4 linked regions of the Homo sapiens genome follow. The protein of the gene in region 4 interacts with the protein of the main gene of each other region in a pairwise test. Each region holds a gene or a part of one and is shown on either strand. Other genes may lie near its edges.

What was found.
Region 1: the proteins of GOLGA4 (region 4) and SERPINB5 interact in a two-hybrid assay, tested with the Homo sapiens proteins (one large-scale study listed by BioGRID).
Region 2: the proteins of GOLGA4 (region 4) and EIF4ENIF1 interact in a two-hybrid assay, tested with the Homo sapiens proteins (one large-scale study listed by BioGRID).
Region 3: the proteins of GOLGA4 (region 4) and CIP2A interact in a two-hybrid assay, tested with the Homo sapiens proteins (one study listed by BioGRID).

What each region holds. Positions count from the first base shown.
Region 1 is NC_000018.10:63,498,661-63,506,006, reverse strand, and holds the end of SERPINB5 (serpin B5), read right to left. Parts: intron 6,888-7,346; coding exon 6,720-6,887; intron 2,678-6,719; coding exon 2,285-2,677; 3' UTR 922-2,284; downstream 1-921. UniProt on the Homo sapiens protein: Tumor suppressor. It blocks the growth, invasion, and metastatic properties of mammary tumors.
Region 2 is NC_000022.11:31,448,634-31,457,165, forward strand, and holds part of EIF4ENIF1 (eukaryotic translation initiation factor 4E transporter), read right to left. Parts: intron 7,355-8,532; coding exon 7,219-7,354; intron 6,683-7,218; coding exon 6,503-6,682; intron 5,744-6,502; coding exon 5,511-5,743; intron 1,728-5,510; coding exon 1,656-1,727; intron 899-1,655; coding exon 715-898; intron 1-714. UniProt on the Homo sapiens protein: EIF4E-binding protein that regulates translation and stability of mRNAs in processing bodies (P-bodies). Plays a key role in P-bodies to coordinate the storage of translationally inactive mRNAs in the cytoplasm and prevent their degradation.
Region 3 is NC_000003.12:108,559,219-108,567,750, reverse strand, and holds part of CIP2A (protein CIP2A), read left to right. Parts: intron 1-1,112; coding exon 1,113-1,254; intron 1,255-2,296; coding exon 2,297-2,396; intron 2,397-4,506; coding exon 4,507-4,625; intron 4,626-6,909; coding exon 6,910-7,102; intron 7,103-7,722; coding exon 7,723-7,797; intron 7,798-7,883; coding exon 7,884-7,994; intron 7,995-8,532.
Region 4 is NC_000003.12:37,295,624-37,304,155, reverse strand, and holds part of GOLGA4 (golgin subfamily A member 4), read right to left. Parts: intron 8,070-8,532; coding exon 7,937-8,069; intron 5,324-7,936; coding exon 5,136-5,323; intron 4,869-5,135; coding exon 4,785-4,868; intron 1,972-4,784; coding exon 1,824-1,971; intron 1-1,823. UniProt on the Homo sapiens protein: Involved in vesicular trafficking at the Golgi apparatus level. May play a role in delivery of transport vesicles containing GPI-linked proteins from the trans-Golgi network through its interaction with MACF1. Involved in endosome-to-Golgi trafficking.

The sequences.
Region 1 (7,346 bases), on a different chromosome or scaffold from region 4:
CTGGCTTTGACCACCCCCAGCAATCCCACACAAATAATCTTTTAAGGATGTGGGGGCATTTGTCAGCTTTTGTACTCATCATTTGTTGAAAGAGGAGACACGTTTAGTTCAAGCACACAATAGGGACAGAAAAGAGGCTATGTTGAATATTAGGTTCAGGGACACCATAACTAATTTAAAACAAATGTGCATGGCATTGAGAAAAACACTCTTCATAAGAAGAAACAATGTTTTAAGCACATACAGTGTCCTAATATAATGACTTTTGAGGGTGGGTTTAGAGTGAAAAGGGCTGGGAAGATCTCTATGTCCCAAGGTGTCTGATTCCATTATAGATGTTTATGCAGTTGAGAGTCATTCTAGCACTGCCCTGGTCTTTTACTCCCTAGGATGAAAGGAGTGTGGGAGAAAGAAGTCAGAGCTGAGGGCTAGGAAGAAAGGAAAACAAGGGAAAAGAGGAAGTAATTATTCTTATTTCTTTTTAGTCTGCCTCAATCTTCAAAAGAGCATTTTACCTACAGGGATGCTTTGGGGTTTTTTGGGGTTTGTTCTTTTTGTTTTGTTTTGTTTTTGTTGTTTTTATGTTTTGAGTTTTTGTTTTGTTTTTTTTTTTTGAGACGGAGTTTTGCTCTGTCGCCAGGCTAGAGTGCAGTGGCCTGATCTTGGCTCACTGCAACCTCCGCCTCCCAGGTTCAAGCGATTCTCCTGCCTCAGCCTCCTGAGTAGCTGGGTCTACAGGTGGGCGCCACCACGCCCAGCTAATTTTTGTATTTTTAGTAGAGACGGGGTTTCACTATGTTGGCCAGGATGGTCTCAATCTCTTGACCTTGTGATCTGCCTGCTTCAGGGATGCTTTTGTAAACGCACGGCTTGGTTCTATTTCAAAATAGTCTAACTTAATAGGAAAAAAAAAACAAGACATGTAGTTCAATAATATTTTATTGTCAATAGCATAGGAAAAATTCAATATTGAATCTCAGAACAAGAAGAACCTATTTACAATGCAGGTCAAGGAAGAGATGGGAGAAGGAATGTCACAAAATTTTTGGTAAATACATATTTTTTATAGAGAAGTAATCCATGAACCTGCAACACGGATAGCTTATCCAACCAACTTTACAAATTACTATTAATATAAGTTACATGCTTGCCATCTAAAGTAACTAAACCCATAGACTGAAAAACTATGTGTCAAGGTAACGTGAGCACTTTAATCACTTTACTTATATTTTCTAAAGGCAGTAGTTTCCTCTCCTTTTCCCGCTATCATATTAGATGAAGAGACAAGTTCCTTCAACACAAATTCTGATATCGGCTATTGTGAGAATCCCTGTGCAAGTCAGCTAGAAGCCCCTGCCACCAGTCTAGTGCCAACCAAATGACCAGATGGGACAGCTATCAAAAATGAAAGTGAATTTATATTAAGATCTGAACTTCCTCTTGGGGTCTTGCATTTCAGCTACTAGAGGTCTATAATTCCTTATCCAACATTCCACAATCTGAAAAGCTCTGCGAACGAAGTGTTTTTGTAAGTTGGTGGCATACGCATTTGGCAGCAAATTTTGACCCCTTATGGGCTACTTAGTCTTTATGTATCCATTTTGTCTGAATATTCTACATTTTGTTGCAGCATATTAAGGTGTTGATTTATAGGGTGCTGCCCCAGATCTGATCCATGAAGTTCTATAACATACAGTGTATGTAAAATATTATCTTTTGAAAATCCCCAAAATTCAGAATTTTAATAAACACCTGCCTGCCAGGGCTTAACATAAGGACTTCTGGACCTATAGTAGCCTGAGCATGTGCCCAAGTTTCACTGGAGCCAGGGCAGTTTCGTGGGTCCCATGCACTACACTTTCTTCAGTCTTTCAGGGAAGCGAGAATGTCTGGAACATTCTCTATCCCAAAGAAGGAAAGCATAGTGCTGGGAAGAAGAGCTTCCAAATCTTCCTTATAGGAATTTTCTTTGTGGAAGACTGTATTTCTGCCAACTACCCCGGACAATTTGACAAATAATGAATAAATATTTTTCCTCTAACGTGATTCCTTTTCATTAAAAGCGTATGTCATTGTCTTATGGGAAAAAAGGAAACAAAAGATAGAATTGGAAAAAAAAAAAAGGTCTATCTGTGTGAAGGCTACATATGACAAGTACTGGCGGCTTCCTGATCCAGCAACATTAGCAATTTATTGTATCTAGAAAATGAATCTCTGGATGCAGAGTTTACAGAAATCGGCATCCACAGAAAAGTCAGGGAGGACTTAACATGGGCTATGCCACTTAAGGAGAACAGAATTTGCCAAAGAAAATAATGTTTCGAGTTTTGTTGTGCCTGATGATGTAAATAAAGGGATGGTCAGCATTCAATTCATCCTTGTGCTGCAGGATCCGTGCTCCTGGCACCTCTATGGAATCCCCACCATCTTCAGTTATTTCTAAGCACACTTTGTGGATAACATTTGATAGGGCCACTCCCTTGGTCTCTGACATTCCAGAGAAATCAGATGTGTCTTCACTGAAGATATGTTTCAGCCCTAGATTTTCCAGACAAGCCTTGGGATCAATCATCTTTTCCACCTTAAATTTTGGAATGGAGAGTTTGACCTTGGCATTGGCCATGGTGCTGGGATTAGTCCACTGTGACAGTGACTCTGAGTTGAGTTGTTTTTCAATCTGAAGGACAAAAATGAAAAGAAATTATTTTTATTTATTTCCAACTGTAAAAGACCTGGCTCAATTGAAAACATAAGGTGTTATGATAAGCCCAGCTTCAAAGCAGTCTGGGTGGAACATCAAAGATGGCCCAGAAGTTTTTGGTATGTGACTCAGGAGACCCAGCAGCCACCCAGCTGTGTCCTCCTCCTCCCCAGCCTATAACAGTGTTCCATGTGCACTGAAATTTATGAGGACAGGGTTCTGTTTTTTCATTTTAAGTTAGAGAGTAGTTTTTTGTTTGTTTGTTTGTTTGTTTGGGTTTTTTTTAGACAATCTTGTTCTGTCACCCGGGCTGGAGTGTAATAGTGTGATCGTCGCTCATTGCAACCTCTGCCTCCTGGGTTCAAGCAATTCTCGTGCCTCAGCCTCTCGAGTAGCTGGGATTACAGGCACACTCCACCATGCCCAGCTAAATTTTCTTTTGTATTTGTAGTAGAGACAGGGTTTCATCATGTTGGCCAAGCTGGTCTCAAACTCCTGGCTTCAAGTGATGTGCCAGCCTCAGCCTCCCAAAGTGCTGGGATTAAAGGTGTGAGCCACCGCACCCAACCTTAAGTTAGAGAGTAGATTTATAGAAACAAATGCCTGGATCATGATGTTGCATACACAATAGTGAAATGAATATAAAATTAGAAAGCTTTTTACACATATTTCTTGAATGCTTATTGTAATTTCTCTACGAGGAAATCCAGAATATTCATGTACTAGGAATGGCATCAGATTTAGAAAATTAAATTAAAGCTAAAGTTACTTTTTTTTTTTAATGGGAATTTGAACTAACTCTGAGCCATGCCCTAGGGTCATAGGTAGTGAATGCATCCATTTTAGCTGTTTTAAAAAATGAGAGAGATGCGGCTGGGCGCAGTGGCTCACGCCTGCAATCCCAGCACTTTGGGAAGCCGAGGTGGGTGGATCACGAGGTCAGGAGATCGAGACCATCCTGGCTAACACAGTGAAAGCCCGTCTCTACTAAAAATACAAAAAATTAGCCAAGCGTCGTGGCAGGCACCTGTAGTCCCAGCTACTCGGGAGGCTGAGGAAGGAGAATGGCATGAACCCAGGAGGCGGAGCTTGCAGTGAGCTGAGATCATGCCACTGCACTCCAGCCTGGGGGACAGAGCAAGACTCCATCTCAAAAAAAAAAAAAAAATCATTTCCAAAACTCAAAAGGTCATTTTCTTTAGTTCTATACTTTAAGAAGAAAATAATTGAAAGCCAAAATTGACAAATGGGATCTAATTAAACTAAAGAGCTTCTGCACAGCAAAAGAAACTACCATCAGAGTGAACAGGCAACCTACAGAATGGGAGAAAATTTTTGCAATCTACTCATCTGACAAAGGGCTAATATCCAGAATCTACAAAGAACTCAAACAAATTTACAAGAAAAAATCAAACAACCCCATCAACAAGTGGGCAAAGGATGTGAACAGACACTTCTCAAAAGAAGACATTTATGCAGCCAACAGACACATGAAAAAATGCTCATCATCACTGGCCATCAGAGAAATGCAAATCAAAACCACAATGAGATACCATCTCACACCAGTTAGAATGGCGATCATTAAAAAGTCAGGAAACAAGAGGTGCTGGAAAGGATATGGAGAAATAGGAACACTTTTACACTGTTGGTGGGACCGTAAACAAGTTCAACCACTGTGGAAGTCAGTGTGGCAGTTCCTCAAGGATCTAGAACTAGAAATACCATTTAACCCAGCCATCCCATTAGTGGGTGTATACTCAAAGGATTATAAATCATGCTGCTATAAAGACACATGCACACGTATGCTTATTGGAACACTATTCACAATAGCAAAGACTTGGAACCAACCCAAATGTCCAATAATGATAGACTGGATTAAGAAAACGTGGCCCATATACACCATGGAATACTATGCAGCCATAAAAAATGATGAGTTCGTGTCCTTTGTAGGGACACGGATGAAGCTGGAAACCATCATTATCAGCAAACTATCACAAGGACAACAAACCAAACACTGCATGTTCTCACTCATAGGTGGGAATTGAACCATGAGAACACCTGGAAACAGGAAGGGGAACACCACACACCAGGGCCTGTTGTGGGGTGGGGGGAGGGGGGAGGGATAGCATTGGGAGATATACCTAATATAAATGACAACTTAATGGGTGCAGCACACCAACATGGCACATGTATATACATGTAACAAACCTGCACATTGTGCACATGTACCCTAAAACTTAATGTATAATTAAAAAAAAGAAAAATAAATTATTGAAATAAAAAAAGAAGAAGAAGAAGAAAATAATTGATGTTTATTGGAGGGCGTTTTAAGAACGAAAGGTAAAATCCAAGACAGCTGGATAATGGCTGAAAGATCAAAGCATAAAATGGAAAGAAAAAAAACAGAGAGAGTAATGCACCAAAGAAGAAGAAGGACAGGAATTATAATTCAGTTAATAAAGTGGTGGCTAAAACATAATGGCAACCAAAGGAGCAAGCTGGAGACTGGATGGTCCCCTGGAAAGTCAGCAAATCACTGAGGCCCATGTGGATATATAGCAAGTGATCCAGGCCTTCAAAGAGCCCCTTCTTCCTTCCTGGCCAAGGGTTGAGGCCAGGCGGGGTGGAGCTAGAATGGAAGCCAGGGAGGGACTAAAGGGAGAACAGGCCTCAGCCAGCTAAGCAGAGGTGAGGGAGCAGAGAGGAAGCTAAAACTCCATTCACCTGCAGAGAAAACTGCTACTCTTATTTAAACTTTGTGCCTTAAAAATCTATATAAATAAAATAATATAATAACCCTTATCATATAAAATAAAATACTTATATATAATGTGTACTATAAAATAGTATCTGCATAATTCAAAATTTTGAAGCATATATGTGTACGTATTAAAATCTCATAAATGTACAACACAAAGAGTGAACCGTAACGTAAATTGTGAAGGCCAGGTGTGGTGGCTCATGCCTATAATCCTAGCACTTCAGGAGGCTGAGGCTGAGGATTGCTTGAGGCCAGGATTTCAAGACCAGCCTGGACAACACAGTGAGATCCCACCTTTACAAAAAAAAAAAAAGCCAGGCATAGTGCTGTGTGCCTTTAGTCCCAGCTACTTGGGAGGCTGAGGCAGGAGGATCACTTGAGCCCAGGAGTTTGAGGTTAGAGTGAGCTACCATCATGCCACTGCACTCCAGCCTGCCCAGGAGTTTGAGGTTAGAGTGAGCTACCATCATGCCACTGCACTCCAGCCTGGGCAATGGAGCAAGACCCTGTCTCTAAAACAATAATAATAATAATAATAATAATAATAGTAATATGTCAGTATTGGCTCATCAATTGTAACAAACATACCAAACTAATGCAAGATGCTAATAACAGGTGAAACTGTAGGCCTGGGACGGGAAGGGGAGTATATGGGAACTCCTTGTACTTTCTGCTTATTTTTCTGTAGGCATAGATCTACTCTAAAAATAACATCTACTAATTTTAAAAAAAAAGAAAGAGCAAGAGAGAGGATGCTTGACATCAGGTCACATGATAGTGGACCTGGCAGTGCGTAGCAACGTAGTGCCTTAACTGCCTAGGAGGTGAGGGAGACACTCTAGCCTTCAGTTAAGAACCTGGCTCCAACTACCTGGGCCCAAATCCTGATCCTGCACACACCCTTGACTAATTATGTAACCAGTTACCCACCCCTCTGTGCCTCAGCTCCCTCACTGGTAAACAAGAGTGTGGTAACAGTCTCTAACTCATCAGCCTGCTGTAAGAATTAAATGAGATAATGCACGTAGGCAACTTAGCACAGTCCCTAGAACACTGTAAGTGCCAAATAAATTTTGGCTGTTGTTAATATTAAGGAGGAAAGGCCCCAGAAAGAACCATGGGTCCTTGGAGGTGACTGAGCCAGTGGCAATAAGGGAGGGCTACCGGCCCAGCTCTCACGGCCCACACAGACCTGTTGGCACAACTCTTTGCCAAGGCAGGGGGTGCCTTTGTGGAGAGCACCTGCCTTCTCCTTACCTTCTCCAAGCCTGTGGACTCATCCTCCACATCCTTGGGTAGTAGGATGAACATGCTGAGATGCTTATTTTGAAAAGGAAGCTCTATGATCTTACAATTGATACTGTCAATGTTTCCCATACAGAACGTGGCCTCCATGTTCATCATCTGCACTGGTTTGGTGTCTGTCTGTAAAAGGGAAAATTTGGACTGCTTACTTTTCAATTTACACATGCATAAATATATATATATATATATATACACACACGCGCGCACACACACACACATATATACCCACATGTATATATACAGACACACATACATATATACCTACACCTATATATATACAGATACACATACATATATACATACACCTATATATACACATATACATATATATGCATACATACATATACATACATATACATATACACACACCTATATATACACACTTATATATACATACTATATATATATACCCCATACATATATACACACATGCACATATATACACATATATAGGCAAACACATAAATATATATGTACATATATATATATACACAAATTTGCTCTTGACACAGTGTCAGATTATTATGGCTTATAATTCATCATCCACTCAGATCCAAACTGTATTGCACTGAAACCAGA
Region 2 (8,532 bases), on a different chromosome or scaffold from region 4:
AGGAGCCAGAGTGGCCAGCAGCCTAAAGTGGCCTAGGATAGCAGGAACACTACGACATTCCATGTAAATACTTTGCTAAGACACTTTCTGGAACTTTTCTTTCAGTCACATTCTGAATTAGCCATAAGACTTAACAGCAGATTGTCTATCAAAACTCAATAGCTTCATAGATAACCACTACACTGACTTCTACTATATCAAAGAAAAACTTAAGAAGCCAAATTAACTTTTTTTGGATTGAATTCCCAAAATAAGGAATAAGACTAAAGAGCTAGATCAAAGTTAGATTTCAATAAAAAAAAAATCTATAACATGAACATATTCACCTAGAAGAGCAGCTGGTATCTTCCACGTTTGGTACCCCATCCCCCAAAAGTATATTTATTTATTTTTTTGAGACAGAGTCTCGCTCTGTCGCCCAGGCTGGAGTACAGTGGCGTGATCTTGGCTCACTGCAACCTCCGCCTCTCAGATTCAAGCGATTCTCCTGTCTCAGCCTCCTGCGTAGCTGGGATTACAGGCATGCACCACCACGTCTGGCTATTTTTGTATTTTTAGTAGAGATGGGGTTTCACCACGTTGGCCAGGCTGGTCTCAAACTTCTGACCTCAGGTGATCTGCCCACCTCGGCCTCCCAGAGTGCTGGAATTACAGGCATGAGCTACCGTGCCTGGCCATAAATTCATATTTCTTTTGACAAATAAGTATATTTACCAATTGGTGATGGTATTCTTGGGCGAAGGTAGTCAGCTGAGGCTGCTCGAGTTTGAAACACCTGTGACAAGGGAGGAGAGGGTGCTCTTTGGCCCAGTAAAGATGTTGTAGGCTCCAAGCTCCCCATAAGGCCACTCAGAAGATTGGAAGAAGCAGGTCTCTGAACTGGTTGACCCAGAAGTTCCTAAAGGCAGAAAAGCCAAATCCCTGTGAACTTAGTTATTCCTTCTACTCAGAGGCTGTGAATTATGGATTAACTTTTGAGAGCCACAAGATGGATCTCCCTCATGCTCAACTGAAGGACTTGGCATGTGTACATGCAACACATTTATCTGAATGTTCAGCTAGCAACATATGCTCTAAGTTAGTGCTATAAATAGAGGTTCCTTTTTTTTTTTTTTGAGACAGAGTCTCACTCTATCACCCAGGCTGGAGTGCAGTGACATGATCTCGGCTCACCACAACCTCTGCCTACCGGGTTCAAGCGATTCTCACGCCTCAGCCTCCTAAGGAGTTGGGATTACAGGCATGTGCCACCACACCAGGCCAATTTTTGTATTTTTAGTAGAGTCAAGGTTTCACCATGTTGGCCAGGCTGGTCTCAAACTCCTGACCTCAGGTGATCCACCCACCTCAGCCTCCCAAAGTGCTGAGATTACAGGTGTGAGCCACCGTGCCTGGCTAGATACTTTTAAGTTTCACAGAAACTGCAAAGGAAACTAGAAGTCAAGGCTTACTTTGTCAACTTTTTTAGCCATCCCCTATCCCCTGCCCATTGAGATTAAAAGCAACACCAAACTATGTCAGGCAACAATATCACCTCTCTGATTGCCAGGCAACACAGATCATTTTCTAAGGCCCAAAGTTGGACCACTAAGCAAAACTGGTTCAGAAGACTACTGTTCAAGACTCCAAGGCCTCAGTATAAGATTGTGAAGTACCTGCAGGATGTTCTTAGGGACAGGCTGGCCTGGAATCTCAGCAGGGGACATCAAATGGCTTTCAAGGTTTCGCTAAAAGAGTCAAAAGAAAACTGGTTTTAACTTTCTTAACTCACTTAACTTACAGATTGATTGGGGACCACAAGAAAGCATAAAATACTCCTAGGGAGTTAATAGCAGAATGATACTCAAGTCACAGAAAACTTAGACCAACGTGTTCCGCTCTCATCACACAGGTCTCAAAGATCTGGGGATGGAAAGACCGTTCACATGTACATGCAAAGTCCCCTCAGAGATCCTCACTATGCTAATCCTAAGTCCATTTCCCTGTTTCTAACACTGTGACCAAAAGGGGGAAAAATGGTGAAACCGGGGAACACTTACTTGAGATAACTCTTGCTACCCATTACCTTTAACAAGATTTATTGGAGACACACACACACACACACACACTCATATATACACACATACATATATACATACATATATACACACACATATACACATATACATACACATACATATACACACATACATACACACATATATATATACTACACACACACACACACACACACACACACACACACACACACACACACACACAAAAGAGACAGGGTCTTGTTCTGTTGCCCAGTCTGGAGTGCAGTGGTGCAATCATGGCTTGCTGCAGCCTTGACCTCTCAGACACAAGCGATCCTCTCATCTCAGCCTCCTGAGTAGCTGGGACTACAGGTGTATGCCACCACACCCAACTAATTTTTATATTTTTTGTAGAGATGGGGTTTTGCCACGTTGCCCAGGCTGGTCTTGAACTCCTGGGCTCAAGCAATCCTCTGGCCTTGGCCTCCCAAAGTGCTGGCTAAATTATAGACGTGACCCACCACACCCTGCCTACACATATGGTTTTAAAATCCTAGTAAACAACATGCAGGTTTGGCCAAAATTGTTATATTTCAGAGTTTCATATTTCAGGAAATTTAAGCTTTATTATTTTATTTTTTGAGACAGAGTCTTGCTCTGTCACCAGGCTAGAGTGCAATGGCACGATCTTGGCTCACTGCAACCTCTGCCTCCAGGGTTCAAGCAATTCTCCTGCCTCAGCCTCCTGAGTAACTGGGACTACAGGCACATGCCACCACGCCCAGCTAATTTTTTTTTTTTTTCAGTAGAGACGGGGTTTCACCATGTTGGCCAGGATGGTCTCGATCTCCTGACCTCGTGATCTGCCCGCCTCGGCCTCCCAAAGTACTGGGATTACAGGCATGAGCCACCGCACCCGGCAACTTTATTATTTTTTAAACGAGCTGTTCCAAAATGGGTATCACATACAGGGCAAAATTCAAATCCTCCACTCTTAAAGCAGTAGTGGTTACTTTTTTTTTTTTTTTTGGGACAGGTCTATGTTCTCCAGGCTGGCCTTGAACTTCTGGGTTCAAGCAACCCTCCCACCTTGGCCTCCCACGTAGCTCGAACTATAGGTGTACACCACCAGGCCTGGCCAGTGGTTACATTTTGTGCATCCAACCTGGAGTCCCCTCCTGCATTTCAGGACATCCCTATGCCCATTTAGCTCTGTGTGAAGTGCTTTCTCTGGTGTAGTTTCCCTTCCACTAGATGGAGCTGTCAAAGTCCAAAGCAGTGTCTAGGCATGACAAATAGCTCAAGAATACCCAAGTATTTTATTGTTGATTTTGGAACTGGGACTAAAGGCAGATGATTTTATAAGTAATCTCTTTAAGAGTCATTTACTTCCATCTAATAAAAACAAATAGACAACTTTATACTGCATGGCTTATTATACTTGGAGGATAGAATCTATAATTTAAAACAGAATTTAGATTGAACCAGCATGTATTATTTTTGGATGAACCAATATGACAACCTAAATGGATGGAGGCAGATCAGAAATAGTATACAAAACATACACAGCAGTAGTAATTAAAGACACCGAATTCAAAAAGTAAACCATGACTTAACAACATGCAAATTGAGCAATATTTTGAGATAACACCTGCTATTCTTACTCCATTACTTTCCTTGTTGTATTCTTTCCTGCTAGCTGAGTTTGTCTTAGCCTTTGCCTAGCCACTTGAATGTGTCATCCATCCGTTTGGCAGGTGTTTGAGGCTCATTTGCTCAGCTAAAACCAGATACACTTCTGAGTGCTAAAACCCCAACATCAAACCAACTGCCCTTACAACTCGAGTAAATTGTGTTAATATCAAATCCTAGAATCATATCTGCAATAAAATGTGGAAAAACATCAGGTAAACTGCTGAATGCCCCCTTCCATATTTTTAGTTGCTCACACCAAAAGAAAGAAGCTAATTATAAGATATGAACCACACCATTGCAGTCAGCACCCAATCACCAAGACACAAATGTAACGAGAAAGGAAAATAGGATAGTCTACCATCTTTCAGTCTGATCTTCATTTGAAAGCATTTGTATCTAATAATTCTTTGTATAAAAGTAACTCTAAAGCAGTTTTACAGGGACATTCTCCTGCAACTGGTATGGTGTGGTCAGATACAAAGAAGTCAGTCTACCTATCTGAGGTGCCTCCTTTCAAGTGTAGGTCAGTCCTGGCACTAAGGAATAATGGAACCTCTGTCTGTCCTATTGGTCAGATAAGGAATGCTAAAAGTCAGTTGCTTTCTTTTGGTATAAGACATAATGATTCAAACAGCTATTGCTACTTGCATCTTGGCTAACTGGTAAGTTCCCAGGCAAGCAGGGAACAGGAAAAAAAGAGAGAAAACTCAATTTGGTAAATTTGCTATAACTTAGCAACTAGAATAAGTCCATGTTTATGTTTTTATTATTCATATCTACCCTGCTTCCACATTAGTTTGTATCAAGAGATAGTGATATTAACACATAGGCTATGGGTAAGAACTACCCTCTCAAAATTGTTAGGACAAAGAACCAGTATATTATAAACATTTGCATTTACAAGGTGATATGCAGTTGTGTCACCTTGTAACCTAACTTCATGCCTACAAGTTTTGTTTTTAACTTGGAGCCACAACTTTTTCCATTAGTAAATTGACAGAATGTAATTATCCTGACAAACCCATCTTACTTTTTTTTTTTTTTTTTGGAGACAGTCTCACTCTGTTGCCCAGCCTGGAGTGCAGTGGCGTGACCTCGGCTCACTGCAACTTTCATTTCCCAGGTTCAAGCAGTTCTCTTGTCTTGGCCTCCCAAGTAGCTGAGATTACAGGCGCATGCCCCCACGCCTGGCTAATTTTTATTTTTAGTAGAGATGGCGTTTCACCATGTTGGCCAGGCTGGTCTCAAACTCCTGACTTCAGGTGATCTGCCTGCCTCAGCCTCCCAAAGTGCTGGGATTACACGCGTGAGCCACTGTGCTCAGCCCCATCTTAGATACTTTACAAATGATTTGTATGACTGCAAGAATGCAGGTAATCCCTGGTATCTGGGAATAATTAGAAGATGTGAATAAAGATTTTACTATACAAATATGGTAAAGAATATGAACTTAAGTAGCTGAATAACAAGAAAATTGTCTCTGGAGTTCATCCAAAAAGATAGTTTTATACCTCATTTTAGCAGTGACTTAAAGTTATACAGGCATTACCATTAAGACTGAATCTTTTAATCTTTATACTGTCACCCACAATACATATAAATTAACCACAAGCCTGCTTTTTCCAGTAACAAATAGCATATCAATAATTAAGGAACACACAAAAGCATCAAGGACCAAATGACTACTAAAGAATTTCCAACTTACTCAGAATACCTTTTTAAAAATCCTTTTATTGTGGTGGGAAAAAGAAGAAAAAAAAAGGAGAAAAGGGTGGGGGGTTTGTGTCAGATACTTACGCTGACTTTGGGCTGAGAAGGCAAAGTCCCACTTGCCTTCATTGTGCTCACTAGCTTGTTGAACGCAGTCATGTCTCCGTCTTTCTTCAGTTGTCGATTGTTGGTTACGGCACTCAAGGTCTCTTCTAGGTGTTCTGCCATGAAGGGAGTTGAATTCTTCACTTGCTGGTCAACCTTCAAGCCCTTCAGACCTGCTTCTACCTCCTCCACTGAAAGCACAACCCCTGAATGTGCTGAGAAGTTGAGAACGTCCAGGTTAAATCAAGCAAAGAGATATCTGGTAGGAATTCTCTTTGGCTAGTATGACAGATAAGATGAAAATAATTTATTTCAAAATTGAGATGAGACTGTCAGAAAAGACTGACACCAAAAATAAACTAATAACACTTAAAATCAAATTGTGTACTAAGAGATGGCATAAACTAAACCTAAAATGTTTAGATGCTAGAAACTGGGGGACCACAACTATGAAGTGCTATTCTTTAAAACTTGACAAGCTCCTGCTGTGCATCCTGCAGAAGGATATGAGTCTTCTGGGAGACTTGTTACCTGGGACAAGAATCCCAGATAGCCCAACATTGCCAAGATTGCTGCCTGCACCGTGGTCATTATATCACTAAGTTTTTATGTTGAGAATTTATAGCCTAAGCAAGAACATGGAAGACTAGGGCAGATTTGTGAGGAAATGGTAAGTTATGCTCTGGAGGAATAAAACATTCACTGGAGTTTGTTTTCAACATTCACTGGATTATTACAACCAGACCCTAGGTAAGAACTTACAGGAAAAGTTCTCATAGGGCTCATGACCCACTGTGAGATTCTCAAAGAGGTGGTATTGTTTGATGAAATGAGTTTTTAAAAAAGAACATTAAACAAAAACCCAATATATATTTGACTTTTTATGAAACAGAGGTTATGTTAGACCCAACTGCCTGAAGACTGAACATCTAGACCTTTTCAGATATCTAAAACAGATATTCATAAACACTTACAGCTTTCTTTAAGTTTTTCTTTATTTGCAGAAAGGCTGGAAAGAAGAGGTTTCAAATCCACTTTGGCTTTCTGTAGCATTTCTAAAATATCCACTTTATTTTCAGCATGGTCTTCCAATGGTATAGGAGCAAAGTAATTCCCCGAGTTCTGTCCAGGAGAGAGGATGGCTTGCTCCAGACCTGATATTGCAAATAAACATACTCAAAATTAATCTGTTCCAGTAAAGAAACATGCCTTCGACAGTATTTTTCTTTCTTTCTTTTTTTTTTTTTTTTTCTTTGAGATGGAGTTTCGCTTTTTCGCCCAGGCTGGAGTGCAGTGGCGCAATCTCGGCTCACTGCAACCTCCGCCTGCCAGTTTCAAGCGATTCTCCTGCCTCAGCCTCCTGAGTAGCTGGGACTACAGATGCCCGCCACCACGCCTGGCTGATTTTTGTATTTTTAGTAGAGATGGGGGTTTCACCATGTTGGCCAGGCTGGTCTCAAACTCCTAACCTTGTGATCTGCCTGCCTTGGCCTCCCAAAGTGCTGGGATTACAGGCGTGAGCCACTGCACCCGGCCCCTTCAACAATATTAAAAGGACACAAATTGAAGGCTTTTCAGTTGTCCAGAGACCCTTTGACCCTAATTGACTCCTGACTAATGAAGATAAAATGAACCATATCAGGGAAAAACCCAGGTTTACCTTCAAGGGCAGAATCTGAAGCCATTTTACCTGCAAGTCTCTCTAGCTCTTCATGTGGTGTTGACCCAAGACTGCTGGATCGGCTTCCTGATCTGCTCGGGTTAGAGAACCACCTACTGAACCGACTGGCAGAGACTGACCCTTCTCCCAAAACATCTTCTATCATCTGAAGAAAAAGACAATAAAAACTAATAGTTTCTAGATGAAAAAGGACAAGAAGGTTTAAATCTTATGAAAGGGTCACTTACTTTGAAACTTCCTTTCATGCTCGTGACCTGAAGATAAATACTCTCAGAACCTAGGAATTTGAACACCTTTTTCTTCCTCCATCCTGGGTAATTTCTGAATAACCCAAACTTGAGTATAACCATCTACTTACTTTCCTTTTTTATTTTTTATTACTTTTTTTTTTTTTTTTTTGAGACAGAGTCTCGCTCTGTCACCCAGGCTGGAGTGCAGTGGCACGATCTCGGCTCACTGCAAGCTCCGCCTCCCGGGTTCACACCATTCTCCTGCCTCAGCCTCCTGAGTAGCTGGGACTACAGGCGCCTGCCACCACGCCCGGCTAATTTTTTGTATTTTTAGTAGAGACGGGGTTTTACCGTGTTAGCCAGGATGGTCTCGATCTCCTGACCTTGTGATCCGCCCGCCTTGGCCTCCCAAAGTGCTGGGATTACAAGCATGAGCCACCACACCCGGTCTACTATTTTTTTAAGACAGTCTCGCTCTGTTGCCCAGGCTGAAGTGCAGGGGTGCAATCTTGGCTCACTGCAACCTCTGCCTCCCAGGTTCAAGTGATTCTTATGCCTCAGGCTCTCGAGTAGCTGGGACTACAGGCATACGCCACCATATGCCTGGCTATTTTTAATTTTATTTTTAGTAGAGATGGGTTTTTACCATGTTGGCCAGGCTTGTCTCGAACTTCTGACCTCAAATGATCCACCTGCCTTGGCCTCCCAAAGTGCTGGGATTACAGGCATGAACCACCACTACTTTCTAAGAATATAAAGCAAAGCCTCTATGCTACAAAAAGGTTTTTGGGTTTCTATCCTTTGCCTCAGGAGTAAATCCACGTACTACCAAATGTTCTCAGAGAACAGTGTCAATGCCACAGCATTCCACTGACAAGCTGATGAGTGACCTTCAACTAAATATCAAGTATGGGGAACTGATGAAAGAAAACCATTGCTTCAAACTTAGTGGTTTCAAGGTTGTAATGAACATTATGAAATTCAATCTTGAGAGTTTCAGAAGCCAAAGGCTAAAAAAGCAGAGCTCATAAAGACTGTAATTCCAAGTCAAAGTTTAGAAAAAGTATGATTGTGGAAGATGAAATTTCAACTG
Region 3 (8,532 bases), about 71 Mb from region 4:
TAAAGAAATGCTGATAGAGTTGTCATGATTTTAGCTCAGTTGTTTTACCTTATGTTTTAAAAATAAAGCCTTCATAATTGCTTTAATAATGGTTATAAGAAAAGACAAGTATATCAACACAAATTCATTCATTTAAAAAGAAACCTTTTAGTTTCACTGCTTAACTTCTATATACTGATTTTCTAGGTCTTCCTTGTGTTTACTTTTTCATAGACCAACTAATTCTGAGTTGCTGGAAGTCCCAATTTTAAAATATTTCATTAATACTTTTTTACTATGAGCAAAGAGCCACTGTATCTCAACCAGATCTCTTAAATGTATCTAGTCAGGTTTCCTTGTATCTCAGAGCAACAAGAATATGTTCTACTCTGTCCTAGAGCAAACTCCACCCCTGTTTAATATCCTCTTCTAAGGTACTGCTCCTTAATTTTCTTCCTTTAAAGCAGTGACTTTCAACCCTGATTTCCTACCTAAAATCACCTGGAGAACATGTAAAAAAAAAAAGAAAATCGATGCCAGAACCTTACTTCAAGAGTTTCTAATTTAATTGGAGTGATGTGAAACCCTGAAATCATTAGGTGGTGTGTGTTTGCATGTTGGCTTTTTTGTTTGTGATTGTTTAAACTACCTGGTTGATTCTAACATGCAGCTAAAGTTGAGAACCACTGCAGTAGGGATACATGATTGCTTGACCTTGGAGATATTTATAATTAATAAAGTGGGGCCTTCTCATTGAATTGGACCACAACTTTTAAAATAATAGCTATTTACATTAATTTATAATATACAAATATGACAAAACAACTTACCCTTATTCAATAAATATTTATTGAACCATTGAGATTCTTGCTAACAAAAAACAGACATCCAATGGAAAGATATCCTCGCTGTTTTAACCATTGAGTCAGAAACCTTTGGTGCCAGTCCATCTCTTACCACTTGCTAGTCATTTAAATTGTGTGAGTTTCAGTTTCCTTGTTTGTCATTGAGCTAATTTAACAATAATTATACTGGATGACAGTGATGATATAATTTGTATGAAATCATCCTGAATGTTATCTTTTACACATAAAGTGAGAATTTTTTTGTTGTATATCTTAACAAAACTTAACCTCTCTGTGGAGATGATACACTAAAAATGCATATTGCAAAAATCTTGACAACTGTCAAGTGTACCACTCTTATAGAACAACAATTTACATATGGCAAGATTGACCTGGGATTTGGAACAAAGGTTGCAGATTCTGAATTATGGTGAGTATATAAACTCTAATGACAAAATGGCAAGGCAGTAAAAAATCGAAAGATGTGGTGATTCTCATCCTTTTGGAGGACCATCCTTTGGTTATAACTTAAGATATAACAGATTAACAAACATATTTTCATAATGAATTTTTTGTAAATTCATTCAATTTGTAGATTGTGTGCTTTTTGAAGAAAGGTATTAACATTTGTTGTTTTTTATTGTTTAGGTTTGTTTTGTCTTGTTTTAACTTACTATAATTATCTAAGGGTTCTGAACATTTCTGGAGCTCCTTTTTGACATTGCCTCAGTAATCAATTTTACTTTTTTAAATGAAAAGCATGAAAAAACAGAAGAGTAGTTTTATTACAAGGAAATCAGTCACTGCTAAAGGCTTTTTAATAACAGACAACTCTCCTTCCTTGGCAGGTCAGGAATTATGGTTAAAGGTGGATTTTCACTGATGGTAATAAGATATTACTTTATACCCCTTCCCTCCTCATGAATTAAGTCCATCTAATCTTTACTGAGGACCTGCTGAGTGGTAGACACTATGATTTGTTTCTGTTTCCACAGATGTCACAATTGTCAGTAATTGTGGACCTTTAGAGTAAGAATTATCTGTTTTTATATTTGTATACTACTTTCAGGTACAAAACTCAGAACATGACCTAGTGTAATTCATTCATTACGTATTAGATATTCTATATTGCCTAAGGTTACCGTCTGTTGTTGATATTCTAGTGACAAAGCTAAGAATTAAATGAACTGTGTTTCGAAACTACTACTTACTTGAAACAGAAAGTTGAAGCAGGTTGGTAGTAAAAGAAACACTGTCTAAACTAAGGCTATTAATGCCAGTTTGTTCTCTTTGGATCTTGAGTTATAAGAATGTTGATTGAGATTTTTACTTCTCAATAGAAACAGGACTTTATCATCTTGAATTTAAAAAACACAAGTGTTGGTTTTTTTCATTTTCTTTAGAATTTTGGACAGAAACAAGCTCTAAGAAATTTTTCAGTTATCTAATTTAAATGTGATTTATCTTTAAAGCAAACTTGCTGCTGATGTAATTTTGAAAACTCTTGATTTGATTAACAAACTTAAACCATTGGTTCCTGGTATGGAAGTAAGCTTCTACAAAATACTTCAGGTGAGTTTAAACTCTTCAAACATTGAAGTTTATTCATACATAAATGGTCCTAATATAAGTTTCTGTTTTAATATTCTTAATCTTTAGAAGATAATTCTCTTAGAATTGGCAATGAGAAGAAAGTTTAAAGTTGTTGTCTTAAGCAGTTATAATAGTCTCACTGCACAGTTATTTTATATACTTTCACAGGAATTGAACATAAGTGCTCATGACACTAATGTAGAGAATGTTCACAATAGTGCTGCTTCCTCAGCCTTTTCCTTTCTTGTGTTGTATTTGTATATTTCTTCATTTGTTTCTGTTGGCATTGGAGGAAGAGTGATATTTGTTTTAGGGTTTTTGTTTTTGGTTAGGGTTGATGTAGGGTATTAAGGGGATAGGGAGACAGCTGGAAGAAAAGGATTGTGATAATTAGAAGGGCTGTGCAGAAAATAGCTAACTCACAAATTTCAATGATAATAGTAGCTGAATATGATCTCTAGCTGTTATCAAAAGGCAAAGTACAACAAATTTAGTTCAAAGTTCTAACTGGCTTTTATTTATGATTCTAGAATTTGGCAGCCTCATTCTATAAAATAGAATGAATCATTCCCCTGGGCTAAGCAGAGAAGGTTGACTTTATAGACCAGAAAAGGGCTGAAGAAAGCACAAATAGGGAACTAAAAGCAGATTGGTCATTTCAAAGTTACTTTTCCTATAGAATTATAATAAAGGGGGCTTCCTTATTATACTAACTCAGGTTGACTGAAATCTCCTGGTTTTTTGGAAAACTGGCCCATTTCAAAGTGCAGTTTGATTACATGGCACTCATCCAAGTGACTCCTTTCTGGTTTGATCTGGTCTGCTAAAGCATAGTGGAGGAGACTACTCCAAAATATTAGCCTCTTAAAAACTTTGTGTAATAATATCTACAACACCTACCTTTACAACAGATGTTTAACAAAAATGAGTGAATTAAATTACTGCAGTAGCTTAACAGAGACATCTCTAGTGACTGTATAGACAGTGTAGAAGCCAAAACTGAAACCTTAGGCAGGGACCACTGGCATGTTTTGAGATTAAGGGACTGAGTTCAAATGTTGACTCTACTGGTTCTTAGTACAGGCTTGAGTAAGTTATTTCACCTCTCTCGACTTCAATTTCCTCGACTACAAACTGGAAATAATGAGGCTTACCATTGAGGGTTTTGGAGATAAAGCTCTGCTCTTATCACAGTTCTGTGACACTGGATTATACTCAAGTACCTACAAGGTACTCAATATTTTAATTATAAGGGATTTATATTTTAATATTTTCTTCACTAATATCTCAATGTATTTTTAAAGGAGTCAAACTGATGTTATGTCCATTATTTAAGATGTTTTTCATAATACAGGTTGAGCATCCCTAATTTGAAAATCTGAAATCTGAAATGCTCCAAAAAACAAAACGTTTTAAGTACCAAAATGAGGCTCAAAGGTGATACTCAAAGGAAGTGCTCACTGAAGCATTTTGGGTTTTTGGATTAGGGATGCCCAACCAGTAAGTACATGTAAATATTCTAAAATCTGAAAAAAATCAGAAATTTGAAACACTTCTGGTCCCAGACATTTTAGATATATGTTGATGACTTGGGGCTTACAATACTAATGTAAAATATTTACTGACATAAATGATTGAAGTAACTGTATTTTTTCGATCTTTAAATTTAAATGTTCTAATTTAATTTGAATTTTACTTTTTATTTTATAGCCTTAATTTGGAAGTGATTGGCCATTTTTTTCTTTTAAATGATAGCTTGGAAAAAAACATTAATTCTACACATCAGTCAGTTGTGGGTTTTTTAATCCACGAAAATATATAAGGCATAATTTTTATAGGCACATTTGAAAGCATTCAAAACCTTTGCCAGATTTTTTTAAACTGTTCATATTGATTGCATTGCAGTGTAAACAGCTATAACAAGGTATAATATATTCAAACTATATAGACTATAATATATTCAAACATTAGAAACATTTTAGAATTTGCCTAGAATTAAGATTTACATATATTTACTCACCTCCTATCTAAAAGAGCTGACATTGTTTATTCTTTCTGCTGCTTCTTTTTTGGTTTCTGATTTATTTAGGACCCACGTTTGATTACTCCTTTGGCTTTTGCTTTAACGTCAGATAATAGAGAACAAGTACAGTCTGGACTGAGAATATTATTGGAGGCTGCTCCACTGCCAGATTTTCCTGCTTTAGTGTGAGTTGTAATCATTTGCAGTGTATCTCTTGTGGTGTTGGAATACCCTGCTATGTCTCTTTAGTCCTCAGTATAGATACACAAGCAAATTAGTGAATTGAAGACTTCATTGTAATAGTAATTTTTCAAGTGATTTCTAAAAATGTTTGATTCTTATAAATGAAAAGTTCAGATGTATACTCACTCAGGGAAAAGCTAGATCCAGGCAGTTAAATGTTCTTCAGGTACTATCCCTCTATGTCTCTAGCCACTTCTTTTTAATGATAACTTCTGGACACTCTTAAGCCTACATCCTCCCAGTTTAGTTCCTCCATAGAAAGAGCTTTTCCTTCCTGACTGTTTAAGGAAAAGGTCTAAGCATTAGTCATTGACCAGGCCTGGGTTATCCATGAGAACGATGTGGACTAAAAGTTAGTTGGGATAGGAGAATAGGAGAGTTCCTAAAGAAAAAAATCTGAACTTTTATCAGAAAGTGGAAAAATGACAACCAGGCAAAATTTTCTACTATACTCGTTACTTTCAAGCAATAAGAATATTTGCAATTATGTTTGAAAAAAAATTCAGATTTCAGGGCTCTCTGAACTAAATGTCTATTAGGAGTCTGGTTTAAAATTTTTTTAAGTCATTTATATGTATGAATTTGTAAAAATGGTTTGAATAATTTGAAGTAGTTGATAAACAGGTAAGATATTCCCTGTATACCGGGATCAGCAAACTGGCCAGTGGACAGGCATCTGTTTTTGTAAATAGTTTTATTGGAATATGGCCACACCCACTCATTTTTATACTCTGTCTATGTTGCTTTCACTCTATAAAAGCAGAATTGAGTAATTGTGACAGAGACCAGATAGGTCCTTGAGTCTAAAATACTTACTATCTTGACCTATAAGAAAAAGTGCTGGTCCATGCTATATGCTATTCACTGATTTAGCGATTCCACTTTTCAGAATTAGCAATTTAGGTCATCATACCTTAAGAGTTAAAGTATGGGATGTAAGACCTAGAGAACATATAACCAAAATTCCCTTAATTTTATAATAAATATTTTTTTAACAGCAACAACAAAAATACACAGGAAGCTTTTCAAGTTACAAGTTAAAAGTGGTCTGTAAAGCTGCTCTATTTTGTGATGGCCTGCTTGCATAAACTGGTAATCTGACATGAAACAAAACCTTAAGAGCTTCAAAGGGGAATCTGCAGCCTCACTGAACATGGAAGTCTTATCCTCTGCCTCTGTGTGTGAGGCCTTCCCACCATTTTGACTGTGTCTTGGCATTCCCTGTCTTATTTGTGTTGTAAATAATTTTCTCTTTGGGCATTATCTCAGATGTCCATTTTATGCTTACTATTTAATGCCCTTATTTGACATTATCTTGGGCGTTTAATAAACTGAATGTATATTATGGATGCATTGGTAGGTAGGGTTTTTGTGTGTGTGTATTTACTTGTTTGTTTTCGAGACAGGGTCTCACTCTATCACCCAGACTGGGGTGCAGTGGTGTGATCATGACTCACTGCAGCTTCGACCTCTGGGGCTCAAGTGATATTCCCAACTCAACCCCCTGAGTAGCGGGGACCACAGGCTTGTGCCACCACAACTGCTTAATTAATTTATTTTTTTATAGAGGGGTCTCACCAGGTTGCCCAGGCTTGTCTCGAACTCTTGGACTCAAGTGATCCTCCCAAAGTGCTGCGGTTACAGGTGTGAGCCACCATGCCCAGCCTATAATAAATTAGGCTGAGTGCCTGCCATCTTGCAGTTTGCACTTTAGTTAAGAGATAAGTGAAAAAAATATTTTGTTTTGTGGTAGAAAGCGTGTTCCAGATAAAGGAACAGCTCATATGAAGGCCTGAGGTAGGAGAAAGAGAGGATTTTAAAGGGTTAGAATGGAAGTCAGGTTGGTGAAAAGTATGTACTGAGTGAGAAAGGAAAAGGACTAAGGACGTAAAGGCCAGGTGATATCACCCATGATAAGAACATTATTCTGACCAGTACCAATAACTTTGTACTTATTACAGATAATCCACACTCATAAACTAGTCTTACAATGCCTCCAAACCAGAGGTGAAGCTGTCATTATAAAAGGTTAGAAACAGAAAAGTGGGTGCTCTGGAAAATTCAGAATATTTCCCAAGACTTCATTTCATCATGGTCTCCAAGATTATTTGAAGACTTCTATTCAAAAAAAGGACCCATTCTTAAAAATTCCCTAATTCTGCACTAAGTCTGCCTTTTCTTCTATTTTCGTATAATTTTTTTTTCCTTTCTTTGACTCCCATTCAGACTTGGAGAAAGTATAGCAGCAAACAATGCCTATAGACAACAGGAAACAGAACATATACCCAGAAAAATGCCCTGGCAATCATCAAATCACAGTTTTCCAACATCAATAAAGTGTTTAACTCCTCATTTGAAAGATGGTGTTCCTGGATTGAATATTGAAGAATTAATAGAGAAACTTCAGTCTGGAATGGTGGTGAGTGAAAAAATAGCAATTATAACCTGGTACATATTAGCTATATGTCAGTCCCAATTATAACGTGTATCTAAACACTGTCAGGTACAGATTTCACTATTGAAACCTTAATATAAGAAATAACAATATTCTGGAAAATTTGGAAATAAGAAAAATCAGTCAAAATTTCAACATTTTGCCGGGTGCGGTGGCTTACGCCTGTAATCCCAGCATTTTGGGAGGCCAAGGAGGGTAGATTGCCAGAGCTGAGGAGTTCAAGACCAGCTTGGGCAATATGGCGAAACCCCGTCTCTATTAAAAATACAAAAAATTAGCTGGACGTGTTGGCTCATGCCTGTTGTCTCAGCTACTCTGAAGGCTGAGGCAGGAGAATCACTTGAACCCAGGAGGCAGAGGTTGCAGTGAGCCAAGATCATACCACTTCACTCCAACCTGGGTGACAGTGAGACCCATCTCAAAAAAAAAAAAGAAATATTTGTGACTTACCTGATGTAGCATTTGTTTTTATTTTGTTACTCATCATTAAGTTTTAATGATTTAGTTTTGAAGTAGGCATTTATTTTGTCATTGTGTCAAAATATTTTATTAAAATTTTAAGTTTTTTTACTCTTAAAATGTAGGTAAAGGATCAGATTTGTGATGTGAGAATATCTGACATAATGGATGTATATGAAATGAAACTATCCACATTAGCTGTGAGTATAAGCTTATTTTAACAATGTGTAATAAGCTTTAATAGATGTATTCCTAAAATGAAAATTAATGATATGTTTTCTTGTAGTCCAAAGAAAGCAGGCTACAAGATCTTTTGGAAACAAAAGCTCTAGCCCTTGCACAGGCTGATAGACTGATTGCTCAGCATCGCTGTCAAAGAACTCAAGCTGAAACAGAGGTGTGTAGAATATAAAGACACATCTGATTTGTAGAAAAATTAATAAGTAAAACATGCAAAATATTAGTTATGTATTTGTTACTCTAATTGAAGTAAATTCTCCTTAGCATTTGACATGCCTCCTTCCTTCTTCCTGAAATTCTGTCCTCTTTAATTTTGGTTACATCGTTACCTGATTTTTTTTTGCTACCTTGTATTATTTTCCTATGTTATTTATTTTGTACCTTTAAGTGTTGGGGACTCTGGGACTTATATTCTAAACCTTTTTCCTTTAGTTATGTGTTCTGTGGTTTCAATGGTTACCAAAATAGTAATGTTCCTAATTTTATATGTCAAGCACAGATCATTTTCCTGAGCACTATGTGCCTATGTTGCTCCATTTAAATATACAGCAAATACCACAAACTCAGCATAACCAATAATGAACTAATCACCCTTCCCTTTTTAAAATTATTCTTATGTATTCCCTCTTCTGTTTTTAGTGTTCTACAAATAAGAACCCTGGAAATCACAGTTTTTACCTCCTATAATTATTCAC
Region 4 (8,532 bases):
AACATATCTTATATTCCCCCAAAAAACTATCCACAATTCCTATGACTTCATGAGGTAACTTTTTTTTTCTCATTTATGTCTCATTGCCAAACTCAAGACCTCTATATGGTTAAGAGCACAGACTCTGAGTCACAATGCCTGGATTAAATCTTGAGTATATACTTATTCTCTGTGCATAAATGTAGGTAAATTACTTAACTTCTATGTTCTTAGGTTTGCTTATTTGTAAAATGAAGATAATAGTATTATTTCATACACTTGTGAGGATGCAATACAAGTAAATACAAGCAAAGCCCTTAGAGCAGAGCATTACTAAAGTAAGTAATGGCTAGCAGTAGTATTAACAATAGTAGCAGCAGTAGTAGTAGCAGCAACAAGTGCTAAATAAGCGTCAGCAGAAGCAGCTGCTGCTGTTACCACTATGACTATTACTACTACTGTAAAACTTAATCTTTTGTAGAAATCCGCCTCTCCTACAGATTTAACCACAGGCTTCGATCCTAGGCTGATGACTCCTGAAAGATGTTCCAATTTCTTATTTCCAAATTCCTGCAACTCAATTCCATTTGAAAAGCTCATGACTGGGTCAAATTCAGTGTATCTAAAAAACCCATCATTTCACTCCAATTCTCAACTTCCCCATTTAGATTTCCTATTCTAATTCCACACTACTATTCATTAAGTGTCCTAAGCTTAAAACTTTGGAGTCAATTTAGAGTCCTTACTTTTCTTCTGCCTCCCTGAGTTGATCAGATACCAAATTCTACAGATTCTACCTTTCTTCTCCTTCCCAGAACCACCATCCTAGCAAGGCGGCTAAAGCTCACAGTCCCTCAAACTGGATTTCTGTCTTTGCTTCTAAGTTTGACTTCCTATTTCATTTCTTTTCTACATAAAACCCTAGCTCCCATCACATTATGCCTTCCTATTACTGGTTTCCTGTTACTCTGTATATCAAAGTCTAAACTCAGCTACCTACCTTTTAAGATTTCAATAGTCAGTTCCTTTACAATCCAACTGCATTTCCCACTTCAGCAAGAATGGTTTTCAGCTGATTCACACACCCACTATGATCACTGTGCCTGTTTACGGCATTGTAGCATCTGAAATGTGTGCTGCCCACACCTCTCTTGTTAGGCCCATTCTATTGATTATTTGAGGTCCAATTCAAAACTCACATCTTCACTGATGTGAAGGCACAGTTCATCCTGCTCTCTCCTCTTTCAAACATCCCTCCTTTCCTAGCTTTAGTCGATTTTGTACCTTGTTGAATACTATGCTGGTTTCTATACTTTATAGCCCAGCATTTATTGTGTCAAAACATGCTATTAACACTGAAGTGTTCATTATTCTCTTTAAAAGCAGACTATAACTTAGACTTTTTGTTTACCCTAAAGCATCTATAAGGTAGCAATTATTTAATAAGTACCATGCTGTACCTACTGGGAAGTTCTACAATTTTAAATCTGAATTTTGATACTCTGTCAGCACACATTTTCTGTAAGGGGCCAGATGATAAATATTTTAGGTTTTGTAGACCACATATGGTCTCTGTCATATATTTTTCTTTTGTTCAAGTATTTAAAAATGTAAAAATCATCCTTAGCCTAAGGGCTGTACATAAATAGGCTGTGGGCTGGATCTGGCCCACAGGCCACAGTTTGCCAACCTCTGCCTCCTCTAATGAGCAGATGGGTGTCTTATTAGGAGCCTCTATAGTTAAGAATTTTTATCAATATTTAACTCATTTTTAAAAATACTGGTCAAGCACTTTAAATAACTTTTGAGTTCCAACATAAAACAAGTAACCCTCAAGTTCTTACCAGCTCTTTCGGACTTTTCTTTCTGTTCCCGTAATTCCTCTCCCTGGGTAGTCATCTGTTTGATGCGACTACGGAGTTGAGCAATTTCTTCTTCTTTCATTTCCAGGGTTTCATGCATCTGACGTTTTGTCTCTGCGATTACCATTCCCTGAATAGAAGTGAAGACTCTAAAACATTTGCATAACAAAACTGCATCATCAACAGCACAGATAAAACTTAATTTAAAAGGCAGAAAAAGGCCGGGCATGGTGCATGGTGACTCATGTCCATAATCCCAGCACTTTGGGAGGCCAAGGAGGGTGGATCACCTGAGATCAGGAGTTCGAGACCAGCCTGGCCAACATGGCGAAACCCTGTCTCTACTAAAAATACAAAAATTAGCCAGGCATGGTGGTATATGCCTGTAATCCCAGCTACTCAGGAGGCTGAGGCAGGAGAATTGCTTGAACCCAGGGGGCAGAGGTTGAAGTGAGCTGAGATCACGCCATTGCACTCCAGCCTGGGTGACAGAGTGAGACTCCGTCTCAAAAAAAAATTAAAAATTAAAAAACAAAAAATAAAAGGCAGAAAAAATGATATTTCTTGCTAAGTACAGCATAACAATTATTTCAATACTTCACAAACTGAGGTCTGTTTTCTGCTCTAATCCTATTACCTAGCATAACAGTATTTTTTACATTAAAAATTTTAATAGTTTAATCCTTAAAGCATTAAAACATTATTACTTAAAAGATTTATTTTATAGCCTTTCTACAAATGTGCTATCTGTCTTAGTAAACAGTTTATAATGAACAAAATATAGTCTTCTGAACCTGGCTTGGCACTACAATAAACTACAAGTATTGATCTGTACTATAACATGGGGATAACCCCAGACACTTGAGAATGGAAGGTGCCTGCTGCCACACTGGATAAAGCAAAATCCCAGGACACATCTACCTGGTTCTTCTCTTTCTTCCTGTGACTGTCTCTGGTACCACCACTATTCCTTACTTTGTAAGGCATCTCCATTCCTCCAACTTGCTAGTTACTTCTGTTCCCTCTTTCTGGATAATCTACACTAGAAATGGAGGTCGGCAGGGGAAAAAGACAACTAAATGGTATACAGTAAAAAAGTCATTTAGGACTAACAAAAAATGAGGTGGTTCACTTGTCTCTTGAAAAAATGTTCAGACTTTGTGACAACAATTTCATGGTCTTAAGATTAGCACCCTCTCCACAGGGTTTGCCAACCCTTGCTTTAGAATATGACTCTTCCAGATGGCTAATATTAATGGAGAGACAGAGAGATAACAACCACGTAAGTGAGGCACTGCTATATGAAATCTCAAAACAAAATCATGGGCTTTCAGTTTCTTCAAAAACCAAAATATAGTGGAAAGAGAAGGAGAGAAGATAATCAAACCAGTAAATTAAAAGAAATCTTAAGAGTCATATCAACCAATTGCAATGAAAAAACTTTATTTGGACCCTGATTCATAAAAGAGCAAAAAATATATGAGAAACTAGAGAAAATCTGAAACTGACTAGATAGCAGGTCATATTTTAAAATTATTAAATTTTTAGATGTGATCATGATAATGTGGTTATAGTATTGTAAAAATAATGTCTTTTATTTTAAAGATATATTAAAATACTTTTGGAAAAAAATGATAAAATTTCTTGGATTTGCTCTAAAACAATTCTGGGTGAGTAGGACAATGACAGTTGAGAAGGTACAGATGAAACAAGATTAGTCATGAGATGTTAACTGTTGAAGCGGGGTGGTGGGTTCAAAGAAATTCATTTTAGCAGCTTTTCTTTTGTAAATGTTTTAAGTTCTTCATTATAATATTTAAAAAAAAAAACAATTTAAGTAGGCCCTCAAGAAGTGTATAATCTAGCAAAGCAGTATTATCAAAAGGATGAAAAAGATTGCCAATACATTTTAACAGCAGGACAGCTCTGACATGTTCTTAATTACGTGACCACTTAAAATACTCTAGTGATAACCCGGCATATTAAAGAAAATGGTGGATGCTATGGAACAAACTGGGAGCTGCTTAGAAAAAGGACCCAAGAACTTGGAGCTGAAAGACAGGTCAAAACTGTTTACCCATGAATTTTCTGGTTGTCTTTGCTGCGTAGCTTTAGCTGCTGCTCCAACTCCAAACTACCAAAGGTAAGACTCATTCCTTCCTCAATCCTCTAATCTCATCTACACATTCTAAAATTCATTTGTAGACATTTTTATTTATGCTAATATATACATTATCACTTATTTTTGTTTGTTGTTTTTTTAAGAGACAGGGTCTCACCCTGTCACCCAGGCTGCAGTACACTAGTGTGACCATAGCTCACTGTAGCCTCTAACTCCTGGGCTCAAGCAATCCTCCTGCCTCAGCCTCCCGAGTAGCTGGGACCACAGGCATATACCAACATACCCAGCTAATTTTTTTTTTTTTTTGTAGAGAGGAGGTCTTGCTTTACTGCCCAGGTTGATCTTGAACTTCTGGCTTCAAGCAATCCTCCCGCCTCAGCCTCCCAAAGTGCTGAGATTAAAGGCATGAGCCACTGTGCCCAGCCCCTTATTTATTTGTTAGGCAACTTATCTGAGAGATTAATCTGTTTCCATATTATCTGAAAGAACATACTGATATCATTCACATTTATAATGCCTTAACTATAAATAACTTTTCTCTGTAAAGTAGTTATGTACTATAAATATAAACTTCCTTTGCAACAGTTATTCTAGTCTACAAATCATAATGCTGACTGGGATCAAGAAATCAGAGAATCAGTTTTACATGACACAAAACTAATGCTAGTAGTTACAAAAATCTAGAAATTAAAGATTTTTCATGGAAAAAGCTGCAATAATTTTTAGAAAACAGAAACAAGCATGAATGTTTCCAACTGTTTCCAAAAGTAAATGTTGGGGCCTCTTGACAAATTTTAGTATCATAGGTTTTGTTGTTTTACCTTATCTTGTTCAAGCTGTTCAATTAAGTTCTTTGCATCACGCAACTGAGTGATAAGTTTAGTCTTCTCGGCCATATGAAGGTCCTAAAAAAAATTTTTAAATTCATTTCCATCTCTAATAAAGCTTCTTCTCATTTGAGAACTCTAAACATTTATCTAATTTATATACATGTTACAGTGCAGAAGGAAAAAAGTACACAGTAAGTCTCAAGGTTTGGTGTTATGTAGGCCAGGGCAAACAAAAATGCCCTTTCCATCCACTCTCCTCTCCCGGAGGTACAAGCCATGCTGTGGAGCCTGTGGATCTAACTTTATAGATTAAATTAGAACAAAACTCATCTGCTCTTTTACCTTTATCTTTTCTAGTTCTTGAAGTCTTTCATCCAGTTGTTCTTGCAGAGCTTCTTTTTCACTAGTTAATAGTGTACATTGTTCCTTATGTGACTGAATTGTTTCCTTACAACGCTTAAGTAGGTTCTCTTGACGCTTCACTCTTTGCTGGAGTGTTTCCAGTGTTTTTACAGAAGTTCCATCTTCCACTAACAATAAAGCAACATAAGAAGGGCCCATCAGTAAGGAATATGAAACTGCCTTTGGAAAATTATGACTGAGACAGTCAAAGAGATCTAATCTAACCGACTCCATCTTGGTTCTAACCTTTAAGCTGTCATTGTTCGTTCCTGGGTGTAGGCTGAACTAACTTTGGGAGAACTTAGTTTATAGTTTATAGTCTAAAACAAAGACAATAAAAGCCATTTCCCAAACAAACCCCCTTCTTGCCTGGAGACTAGATTGCCTTTGTAGGACTAACAAATTAGCCAAAAGATTAGAAATTATCATTTAGGAGTCATGCAGCTGAAGGCTACAAGATTCTGACCACCACTAAACTGCTCCTAATATCACTGCTTGAGATATTTTGCAGACCCTGCACTTGATGGATCAGCTGGCAACACCCAGATCGATAAATTGGCTCATCTGATCTTGTGGCTCCCACCCAGGAAGTGACTCAGCACAAGAAGACAGCTTTGATTCCCTATGATATCATCTCTGACCTGACCAATCAGCACTCCTGGCTCACTGGCTTCCTCCCACCCACTAAATTGTTCTTAAAAACTCGGATCCGTGAATGCTTGGCGAGACTGATTTGAGTAAAATAAAACTCTGGTCACGTGCACACTCGGCTCTGCGTGAATTACTCTTTCTCTACTGCAATTCCCCTATCTTGATAAATCAGCTCTGTCTAGGCAGTGGGCAAGGTGAACCCTTTGGGCGGTTACAAATATAAGGACACTTCCAGGAACAGTCTGTTACTACACAGGTGTGTATTCCCTCTTTTTTTTTTTGAGACGGAGCCTCGCTTTGCCGCCCAGACTGGAGTGCAGTGGCATGATCTCGGCTCACTGCAACCTCCACCTCCCTGGTTCAAGCAATTCCCCTGCCTCAACCTCCCAAGTAGCTGGGATTACAGGCGCACACCACCACGTCTCGCTAACTTGTTTGTATTTTTAGTAGAGGTGGGGTTTCACCATGTTGGCCAGACTAGTCTCGAACTCCTGACCTCAGGCAATCCGCCTGCTTCAGCCTCCCAAAGTGTTGGGATTACAGGTGAGAGCCACCACGCCCCACCAGGAGTGTATTCTTACACCAATATTCTGCTATACTCTTAGATGAAGAAGGGACAACCCTAGTCAGCTAATAAACTGGCACCCTTCCAAACCTCTACTTAGTATTAGTTGTTTAATCTTTATCTGAAGAAGCTTAGTAGTAATTCACCTCTTTGAGGTTCAACCCCATTCAGAATGGCACAGTAGTTAACTAACATTAACTGAATCCACCCTCCTTAAAATGACAGTTTGATAATCATCTTTTGTTATTCAAAATTATGTGTCTTAGCTCACCTCCCAAAAGGATTAATAAAGTACGGTATTCTTTCCAACCACATTCTAATCTCTTTCTGAGAGGAGTTCTGGTAAGTGCAACTTTCTCCATCTCTTTACATTTATGAGTCTGAAGTTTCCACATGTCTGGGAATTTCGGGACTGGCCCCGCCGCCCCACCACCCCACCATAGTCTGGTTGCTCAGATAGTTAACTGCTCAACTACTTACTCCAAGTTTATCATAAGTCCCTTTGAAAGAAAAAGCTAGGAAATAAAAGACGGGAATTTTATTGCGTATATACCTCAAGCCTCAAAGCAAAGAAGGCTGTAACTGAATTTTAAGACAAAATATAGCTATTTCTTCTTTTTCCAGTTAAAAAGCAATTAATAGGACAAATACAAATATCTATGAATATAGAACTATTTAAGCAATATTTAAAAACTAAAATATCCAAACAATTACAAATAGCCCACTTATTAGCATGTAAGCAGAACTGACCTGTTCATATGAAATCTAGCTACTGCTATTAATAAAACAGTGTAGCATAATAAATGAATTTCAATTACAATGAAAATGTGGTGTTACAGACTATGAAATTTTTGCATATTAAAACAACTTTTTTGGTTGGGCACAGTGACTCACACCTGTAATCCCAATACTTTGGGAGGCTGAGGCAGGTAGATTACTTGAGATTAGGAGTTCGAGACCAGCCTGGCCAACATAGTGAAAGCCCGTCTCTACTGAAAATACAAAAATTAGCCGGGCATGGTGGTGTGTGCCTGTAATCCCAGCTACTCGGGAGGCTGAGGCAGGAGAATCGCTTGAACCCAGGAGATGGAGGTTGCAGTGAGCCGAGATCATGCTACTGCACTCCAGCCTAGGCAATAGAGTGAGACACCATCTCAAACTAACAAGCAAACAAAAAACACTTATTTTCTCCTAAATAACAACAAAGAACCAAAAAAACAAAACAAACCCTTGCATCTTTCTGAAACTATTAGGACCACGGACACTTCTACCTCAGCCCATATCTATCAGCTCACATCCTGGAATCTCTCAAAATCCTCCTCTAGGTTTTCTTGGGGTTTCATTTTTGTTTTTGTTTTTCTTGTGGAGAAGGGTTTTCTCTATGTTGCCCAGGCTGGTCTCAAACTCCTGAACTCAAGCGATCCTCCCACACTGGCCTCCCAAAGTGTTGGGATTAAAGGTGTAAGCCAAGGAGCCTGGCTCTCCTCTAGTTTTTAAATTAACCTTTTGACAAAATGAAGCTTACCTACTGGCTCTCCATCACTTTCTGGATTCTCTTCTTTAGTGAAGACTTCAGCCTGTGGTTCCAGCTGAGGAAGTGGTTTCAGTACATCAACATTCATCGGGCCATTTCGTAATCGTTGTTTCAGTAGAGAAACCTAATATAAATGTGCTTCATTAGAAAAAAGTCAAAAAAAACTATGGGAGTAGTACAATTGTCCCTTGGTATCTGTGGGGGATTGGTTCCAGGATTCCCTGTTAATACCAAAATCCGCAGGAGCTCAAGTCCATTATATAAAATGGTGTAGTATTTGCATATAGCCTACACACATCCTCCAGTATAATTTAAATCATCCCTAGATTACATAAACTACCTAAATAATGAAAATGCTATGCAAGTAGTTGTTGTACTACATATATTTTAGAAAATAATGAGAAGAAAAAAAGTCTACATGTTCACTACACATGGTTTTCACCCCCTAAATATTTCTGATCCAGTTGGTTGAATCCACACATACAAAAACACATCAATGTGGATGGCTTATTGTACTTTATTTAAAACAGAGAGAGGACGGATTAAATGATATTCTTCTTACTAAAGTGGGGGAAAATAATCAAAAT